Linked DNA regions of Homo sapiens. The protein of the gene in region 1 purifies or fractionates together with the protein of each later gene. This does not show direct contact. Each region holds a gene or a part of one and is shown in the gene's direction. Other genes may lie near its edges.

Region 1 (3,814 bases):
GGATTACAGGCGTGAGCCACTGTGCCTGGCCCAGTTTTTTTAATGTATTGATTTTTTTTTTCCACCCCCAAGGTCCTATTACTTGGCTAACCTCTTTGACTTCTTGAGTCAGATTTCATCTCAGTGGCTTCAGGGAAGTCATGTTAAACTTTGTGAGATATATCTCGTGAGAGAGGCCACCAGCAAGAGGAAAATTTATCTTTTTGGAAGCTACTTCTCCTCTCTGATCAGCTATCACTTGAGCATTGGCCCTGCAAGATGGTTGGTGAATTACTTCCACTCATGTGGGTGTGGTTGCTGTAAAGATAGAAGACAAATTTTGATGACAAGAATTCTTTGCCAGGTGTAGTGGCTCATGACTGTAATCCCAGCACTTTGGGAGGCAGAGGTGGGAGGCTTGCTGAAGCCTAGGAAATTGAGACTAGCCTCAGCAACATAGCAAGACCCCATCTCTACAAATAAAAATAAAAAATTTAGCTGAGTGTGGTGGTGTGTACCTGTGGTTCCAACTACGTGGGAGGCTGAAATGGGAGGATTGCTGGAGCCAGGAGGTCCAGGCTGGGCTGCAGTGAGTCGTGATCACACCACAGCACTCCAGCCTGGGCCACAGAGCAAGACCCGGGGGAAAAAAAAAGAATTCTTGCTTAGAAAAGTACCCGATTAGTGCTCTAGTTATTTTTTTCCCCTTAGGACTTTCTGAATAAGAATTGGAGTAACATGATGTTATGAATTATTTTCAGGCTTGTTTTTGGGGCGTTTGGTTTGTTATGGCTTTTGCTTATGGGATAAGAAACAGTTACAGAAATGAGAACAATAAGTTTAAATCATTTCAAAGCTCATGCATAAATATAAATGTGTATTTTATATAAACTGAAAATTCTAAGTAATTAAAATGTAAAATCCTCCATTTTCTCATCCCTAAATAATAGCCACAGTTTACATCTTGGTGTGTATTTCTTTTTTTAGGTATAGATGTAAACATAAATACATTTTTATAATATAGAAATGTAATATTCCTACTGATTTGTAACTTTTTTTCACTGTGAATTGAAACCTTAGCATCAAGCAGAAATCGCCCTCTATGTCTTTGACTTGAGGTGTTTTTTTTTTTTTTTTTTGAGAGAAAGTGGCCTAGTTTCTCTGTGTTCTAACTGTATCACCTACTGCTGCTTTGGAGACCCTCTGCCCCAGGATGACTGGCTGCTAGGGCCTGTCTTAGTTTGTTCCTCAGTAAAATAGGGGTAATACTACCCAACCTCATACCCTTGCATGATTGAGCTAATGTGTATATGATGTAATACCTGACACATAGTAATTGTCGAATAAATGTTGTATTCATTTCTGTCTTTAAGGCTCTATGAATAGTCTGTTCCCTTTCCATTTGCTGCTCTCTTGGATATACTTTTTCCTTTCTTCGCTTCATTATCCCAATCCCACTTTAGGGCCCAGTTCAAGTTCCTTAAGCTTCTTTCTATCCAACCCAGTCTTTCTTGTGTACCTAAATTTTGGAGGGGCCCAATGAAACATGTCTTTCAGATGTTAGTAACAAAATGTACGCATTGCCAGTGGAGCTGGGCATTTTAAATCACTAAATGTTCAAGGCAGCCAACCTTTGGTTAATATTGTTCTTTCTTCTTGTTAAAATATGTTAATATACCTTCACATCACATTTGTGAAATGTGCCAGGCATGGTGGCTTATGCCTGTAATCCCAGCACTTTGGGAAGCCAGCTTGGGAGGATTGCTTAAGTCCAAGAGTTCAAAACCAGCCTTGGCAACATAGTGAGACCCTGTCTCTACAAAAAATAAATAAATAAAATAGCCAGGTGTGGTGGCGTGTGCCTGTAGTCCCAGCTGCTCGGGAGGATCACTTGAGCCCAGGAGGTTGAGGCTGCAGGGAGCCATGATCATGCCACCGCATTCCAGCCTAGGTGAAAGAGTGAGACACTGTCTCAAAAAAAAAAAAAATTGTAAACGTGATTGAGACACTGTATGTTATTTTGCATTATTGCAAATCTGTTTCTGTCTTGTGTCCCCAGCTAGATTCCAAGTACCTTGAGAATAGCGATCATACCTTATAAAACACAGAAGTGTTCTGCAGATGAAAATTGGAGTGAATGAACACACTATGACAAAGGAGAATTTTGTTGGAGCATTTTGTGGGGAGGGTCATCTGGGAAATCTGGATCTATTCTTTTCTTTTTAAAATTTTTATTATTTATTTATTTATTTTTATTTGAGAACAGGGTCTTGTTCTGTCACCCAGGCTGGAGTGCAGTGGCATAGTCACAGCTCACTGCAGCCTTGACCTCCCTAGCTCAAGTGATCCCCCTACCTCAGCCACCCAAGCAACTAGGATTACAGGCACGTTCACTACACCCAGCTAATTTTTGTATTTTTTGTAAAGACAAGGTTTGGTCATGTTACCCAGGATGGTCTCAAACTCCTGGGCTCAAGCGATCCTCCTGCCTCGGCCTTCCAAAATGATGGGATTATAGGCTTGAGCCACTGTACTTGGCCGGTTCTTTTTTTTTTTGAGACAGGATCTTGTTCTGTTGCCCAGGCTTGAGTGCAGTGTCGCGATGTGAGCTCACAACAACCTCCACCTCCTGGGTTCAAGCAGCTCTCCTGCCTCAGCCTCCCGAGTAGTAGGGATTACAGGCACGTGCCACCACACTTGGCTGATTTTTTGTATTTTTAGTAGAGATGGGGTTTCACCATGTTGCCCAGGCTGGTCTCAAACTCCTGAGCTCAGATGATCCACCCATCTCGGCCTCCCAAAGTGCTGGGATTACAGGCGTGAGCCACCGTGCCCGGCCGGATCTATTCTTTTCAAACGAATGAAATGTTAACTTTCTTGGTACACTTCCTTGGTATAATGCTGAACTCGTATAGTAACTCAAATGGGTATCTGCATAGATACAGGGGTTTTCGTTTTGTTTTTCCAATTTGCAGGAAATTATAGTGACTAGCGTAATAAAAACAATCAATGACTTGGGAGACAAAGGAATCCCTGAGTATCTCTCCTCTCATGCCCTGTGAATGAATAACAACTTTATGGCTTAGAGTCCTCCTGTCTTCCCTTTTCACCCCTCTAGTCCCTCCTCCGTCCATTTCTTGAAGGGAACTATGAGTGTGATAGAAGGTGGAGTGGGGATTCCCTGTGGCCTGAAACATTTCTTGCTTAGTCTAACTCAAAAGATCCTTTTTCATTTGTTACCAAAAATGTATTAGGTCCCTGTTGAAGGCTAGGCATGGGGTAACTGGTAGGGGAATACAGATATTTTTGAGTTCATAATCTGGTCATGTGGGAATTGCTATCTTTGTGATTTTGATTATTTCTTCCAGATTATTTTATTCAATAAATCTAGGAGACTCTGGGTTTTAAGGAGTCAGCATCTAAAAGTGATCTTGCAAGCCATGCAATGAATACTCAAAGTGTAGAGTAGTCCACAGAAAGAATAGGGAAAACCTAACATTTCTGTAAGATTTAAATTTCAGTATAAAATCTGGAACATTCTACTCGCAGTAGTATTTTAAATGTTGTATTTTCGTGAGTTTGTTAACCTTCGTTTTTTGTTTTTGTTTAACATTCTTGCATTTTAAATCAGGTGCAGCTATTGCTGGAGTTTACCGAGCAGCAGGGAAGGAAATGATACCATTTGAAGCCCTCACACTGGGCACTGGACAGACATTTTGCGTCTTGGTGGTCTCCTTTTTACGGATTTTAGCTACTCTATAGCATACATCCTTATGCTGAGATGTTGAACTTAAACTTTATGGAATCCTCCAAAAGAATACATTATGGAGTGTAG
Region 2 (3,814 bases), about 18 Mb from region 1:
GGACCCCGCCTTCTGACTCACAGCAGATGGGGACATCATGTGAGCAAACCCAGCAGTCAGGGGTGACCAGACACAGCAACTGGGCAGATGGCAAATGGGGGGCGGGGCGGGCTGGCACAAAGGGGTCTCTCAAACCGGGTGGGGCGGGGCTGTGGCACGGCCTCAGCCTCCCAGGCCTCCTTTCTCCTGAGCCGTCACTTGGCTGAGACCCTGCCCCTCCTCCTGTCTCTGGTGCCCCATCTGGGGCTCCTTGAGGCCCCCAGGGGAGCCCTGTAGATTCTGGTCTTAGGTCTGGACTGCTGGGTAGAGGGGCCAAGGGTTGGGGAGTAGGAAGGGACACACATTTTCTGACCACTGCCCAGTGCCAGCCTGCCCTGGCAGGAGGTCAGCTAAGCCCCAAACTCTCCCTGGTTCCCTGATGGCTCAGCCTGGATGGGAGCAATCCTGGACCTTCCCTGACCTCAGATTCTGCCAGGCCCTGGGCTCAGTGCCTTGCACACGACACCCACTTTTCAGATGAGGACATTGAGGCAGGGGAGGCTTACCCAGTGAGCAACCCCACATCTTTGGGGATCCAGAATTTGGGCTCTTGTCCCTTGGTGGAGAGGAGGCTCCTCAGCCAGCCAGGCACATGCTCGTGTCTTGAACCCTGCCCCTGCCACTGCCAAATCCACGCACCTGTAGGGTGACAGGGCCCGTAGAGACAGCAAGGGTGGCTTGCCCAGGGAGAATCTTGGCTTTGTTTCTCTCTGGTTGTGGGAACATGGGCCTGTGCCTCGGTTTCCTCATCTGTAAACTGTGGATCACAATCACATCTGCTTCAGAGGCTATTATGAGCATGAAGAGAGTTGATAGAGGAAAGCATATGGGAAAGTGCCTTTCCCATACGTGGGAATGTTAAGCCTTTTTTTAATACCTCTCCCATTGGACAGATGGCTGTATTGAGGCCCAGAGATAACCTGAAATAACTGTGAGCACTTCTCCCTGCCCCCGCTACTGCTGGGAGAGCTGCGGCCACCTGGACACCAGTGGCGCTCACTCACCCACCTCCAGCCTGACTCGTGCTTTGGTGAGGAGGCCAGTGTGGTGGGCGTCGGGCTCCCGAGCTGGCGCCTGCGCAGGCTCAGGCAGTTTGTGGTATGCTTGGCAGTTCCAGGCAGAGATAAAAGCTCAGCCCCGGAGGAGCTGGCATGCTTCCGGGCACCGGTGGACAGGCCTCTCTGCATTAGTGGGAGATGGCCTGGCGGTGGGGAGATGGCCTTGCTGTCCAAGAGCCAGCCCAACCCTGGTGGCCTGAAAAGTTCTGCGGTGAATGGCTCTGGCTTGGCTTCCCAGACTCGGGGCCACTTACACCAACTGCAAAACAAGGAACAGTGAGATAGAGAGCCGCCTCTGCCACCTCCCAGGCCCTTTCCCCTCCCGTCCCCAGGTCTCTGTCCTCCTAGTACCCCCAGCCTGGATGCTCAAGGCCCATGGGGGAAAGCTGACTTTTGAGAGGAGCTGTGGAGACTTGCATTCCACTGCCAAAGATGACAGCTTCTCTGGACCCGTTTCCCTGCCTGTAAATGGAGATAACAATACATCCCTTTGCAGGGTTGCTGTGGAATTTGGGGCAAAAGTGGCTGCAAAGTATGTACCTAGCACAGTGCATGACTTCAAGAGGTTCTCCCTAAACCTCAGCTGGAGGTTTAATCTTCCAGGTCATGGGCTCATTGACTTAGGCTCAAATCCTTGAAAAATGACTTAGAGCAAGCGGCTGAATTTCTCACAACTTCATTACTTGGGCTGTGAAAGTCTCTGATACCTAAATGCGGCTTTGTGGGGATGAACCGAGACAGCCACACGTCATAGGGGCTCATGAGACGCAGACCCTGTCCCCAGCTGTCCCAGACCTTTGCTTTTCCATCCCTCAGCCAGGCTGCCCCCTAGGAGAGGCAGCACGAGGTGGGCTGTTAGGGGTGTGGGCTCTGGGGCTGCCTGATTCTGTCCCAGCTCTACTGGCTGTGTGGCCTGGGACAGGTATATTAACCTCTCTGTGCCTCGTCTTCCTAATTGTAAACATGAGGCTGGTAATGGCATCCTGAGAGGATTAAGTGAGCCTCTGTATTTTAAGTGCTGAGTGCAGGGCTGGGCACACCTCAAGTGCTATTGTAATTGCCCCTTCTGGGCCATGACCAAGCCTTGTTCTTAGAGAGCATTGGAGACTTTATCCGGAACAATGGTGCCATCCTCCCAGGATGTTACCGGGAAAACCACCAATCCTGTGACAGCTTCCCCTTTGGACATGCCCATTCCTGGGGTCTTGATCTGCTGCCCCGAGGCATTGTCCAGCCTGGGACTCCTTCATGTTCCCCAAGACCTGAGACCTGACCCAGGTTTTGGAGTGAGTTAATGTGACCCTGGGCTGGGGAGCTGAGCTGGAGCCATTACCCACAGAACCGCCGACCTTTCAAAGGACCAGAGGCCATGGCCCTAGCCCTGGAGAGGAGGCCTGGGTTCCAGTCGAGCTGGTTTCCTGGGACAGAACAGCACTGTGGTCACTTCTCTGCTGGGTGAGTTCACCCTAGGCCCCTGGGAGCTAGGCTGAGCAGCTGACCCCTTCTGGGTCCTTGGCTGAGTCTGGGCCTCAGGGTGTGGCTCTGTGGCTGGCACCCTGGGTCTCGGACCCTGTGGCAGGGGGTCAGACAACTGCCCAGACCCACCTGCTTTGATGGTGACAGATGCTAGGGGTGAGCCCAAGGGGCTGGCAGGGGCCCCTGAGTCATGCTCAGCCCTGTGCCCTCTGCCCACTGCTCCTCTGCTGTGTCACCATCTGGGCACGGGCCAAACAGTTCAGGGGCGACTCACAGCCCAAACTTCCGCCCCTGGGGCATACACTTCACTGCCTACAAAGACCCTCATTCAATCTTGAGTGCTGCTGGCCCTCTAAGACTTGAAACTTTATCCACATTTCACAGATGAGGAATCAGGCCCAAGAGCTCGGAGCAGTCAGTGGTAGCAGAGCCCGAACCCAGTCTCCTGCCTCTTAGCCTGGACTTTTCCCCAGAGTACCACAGATGGCCATTCCCATGATAGGTAGTGAGTTCCCCACCTTTGTAGGTGTTCAAGTGTGGCAGGGGCGTTGCAGAAGCAACTTTGGCATCGCATGGGGCTCCTCTTCATGGCTGCTTCCAGCCCTGAGCTTTCCTAGCCTTGGGGGAGATGGGCACCCAATTCCCACATTCCCCGGAGTCGCTATGTCCTTAAGCATCACATGGGTCTTTCTAGCCGCATCAGGCCATGCTTGTGGGCAGGTGGTGCCTCTATCTAGAAACCCTCTTCATAGCCTGGCTGTCTGGCAAGGTTCTTCCAAGGAACCTCCACCATGAAAGCCATGAATGCATCTTCAGAGACCCCTGTCCATGTGTAAATAGCTCAGTGGGCTGGATGGGAGGGAGCAGAGGGGGAGAGGGACCCAGCTGAAGAGGACTGGAGTGAACAGGGAGAGGCTGAGGGAGGTCAGGAGGGCAGGACACCCACCTCCTGAATCTTCAGGACCCCTTGCTCTCCCTTATCCAACAGGCTTGAACCTGAATAGGGGCATTCCTGACCCCATGGCACTTCCCCTGCCCCCCACCTGCCTAGAGCCATGGGCAGTGGGCAAAGCTGGAAGAAACCCTCGTGCACAGCTTCCTCAAAGCTGTACTTATCCTATGCCATGGCTGTCCTGGCCACACCTTCTGGGGGACTCTGCCACCTGTGTGCACACCTAGGGGACCAGGTGCACACGGTCTGTCCTCCAGCTCCTCTCCTGCCTGCCTCCTGGCACCTTAAG

The links.
Region 2: the proteins of TMEM170A (region 1) and ADGRG1 purify together in Homo sapiens (affinity purification with mass spectrometry; one large-scale study listed by BioGRID and IntAct). This does not show direct contact.

What each region holds. Positions count from the first base shown.
Region 1 is NC_000016.10:75,447,485-75,451,298, reverse strand, and holds part of TMEM170A (transmembrane protein 170A), read left to right. Parts: intron 1-3,610; coding exon 3,611-3,741; 3' UTR 3,742-3,814. UniProt on the Homo sapiens protein: Acts as a regulator of endoplasmic reticulum (ER) and nuclear envelope (NE) morphogenesis. Affects the ratio between tubular ER and ER sheets by promoting sheet formation at the expense of tubules.
Region 2 is NC_000016.10:57,631,590-57,635,403, forward strand, and holds part of ADGRG1 (adhesion G-protein coupled receptor G1 isoform b precursor), read left to right. Parts: intron 1-3,814. UniProt on the Homo sapiens protein: Adhesion G-protein coupled receptor (aGPCR) for steroid hormone 17alpha-hydroxypregnenolone (17-OH), which is involved in cell adhesion and cell-cell interactions.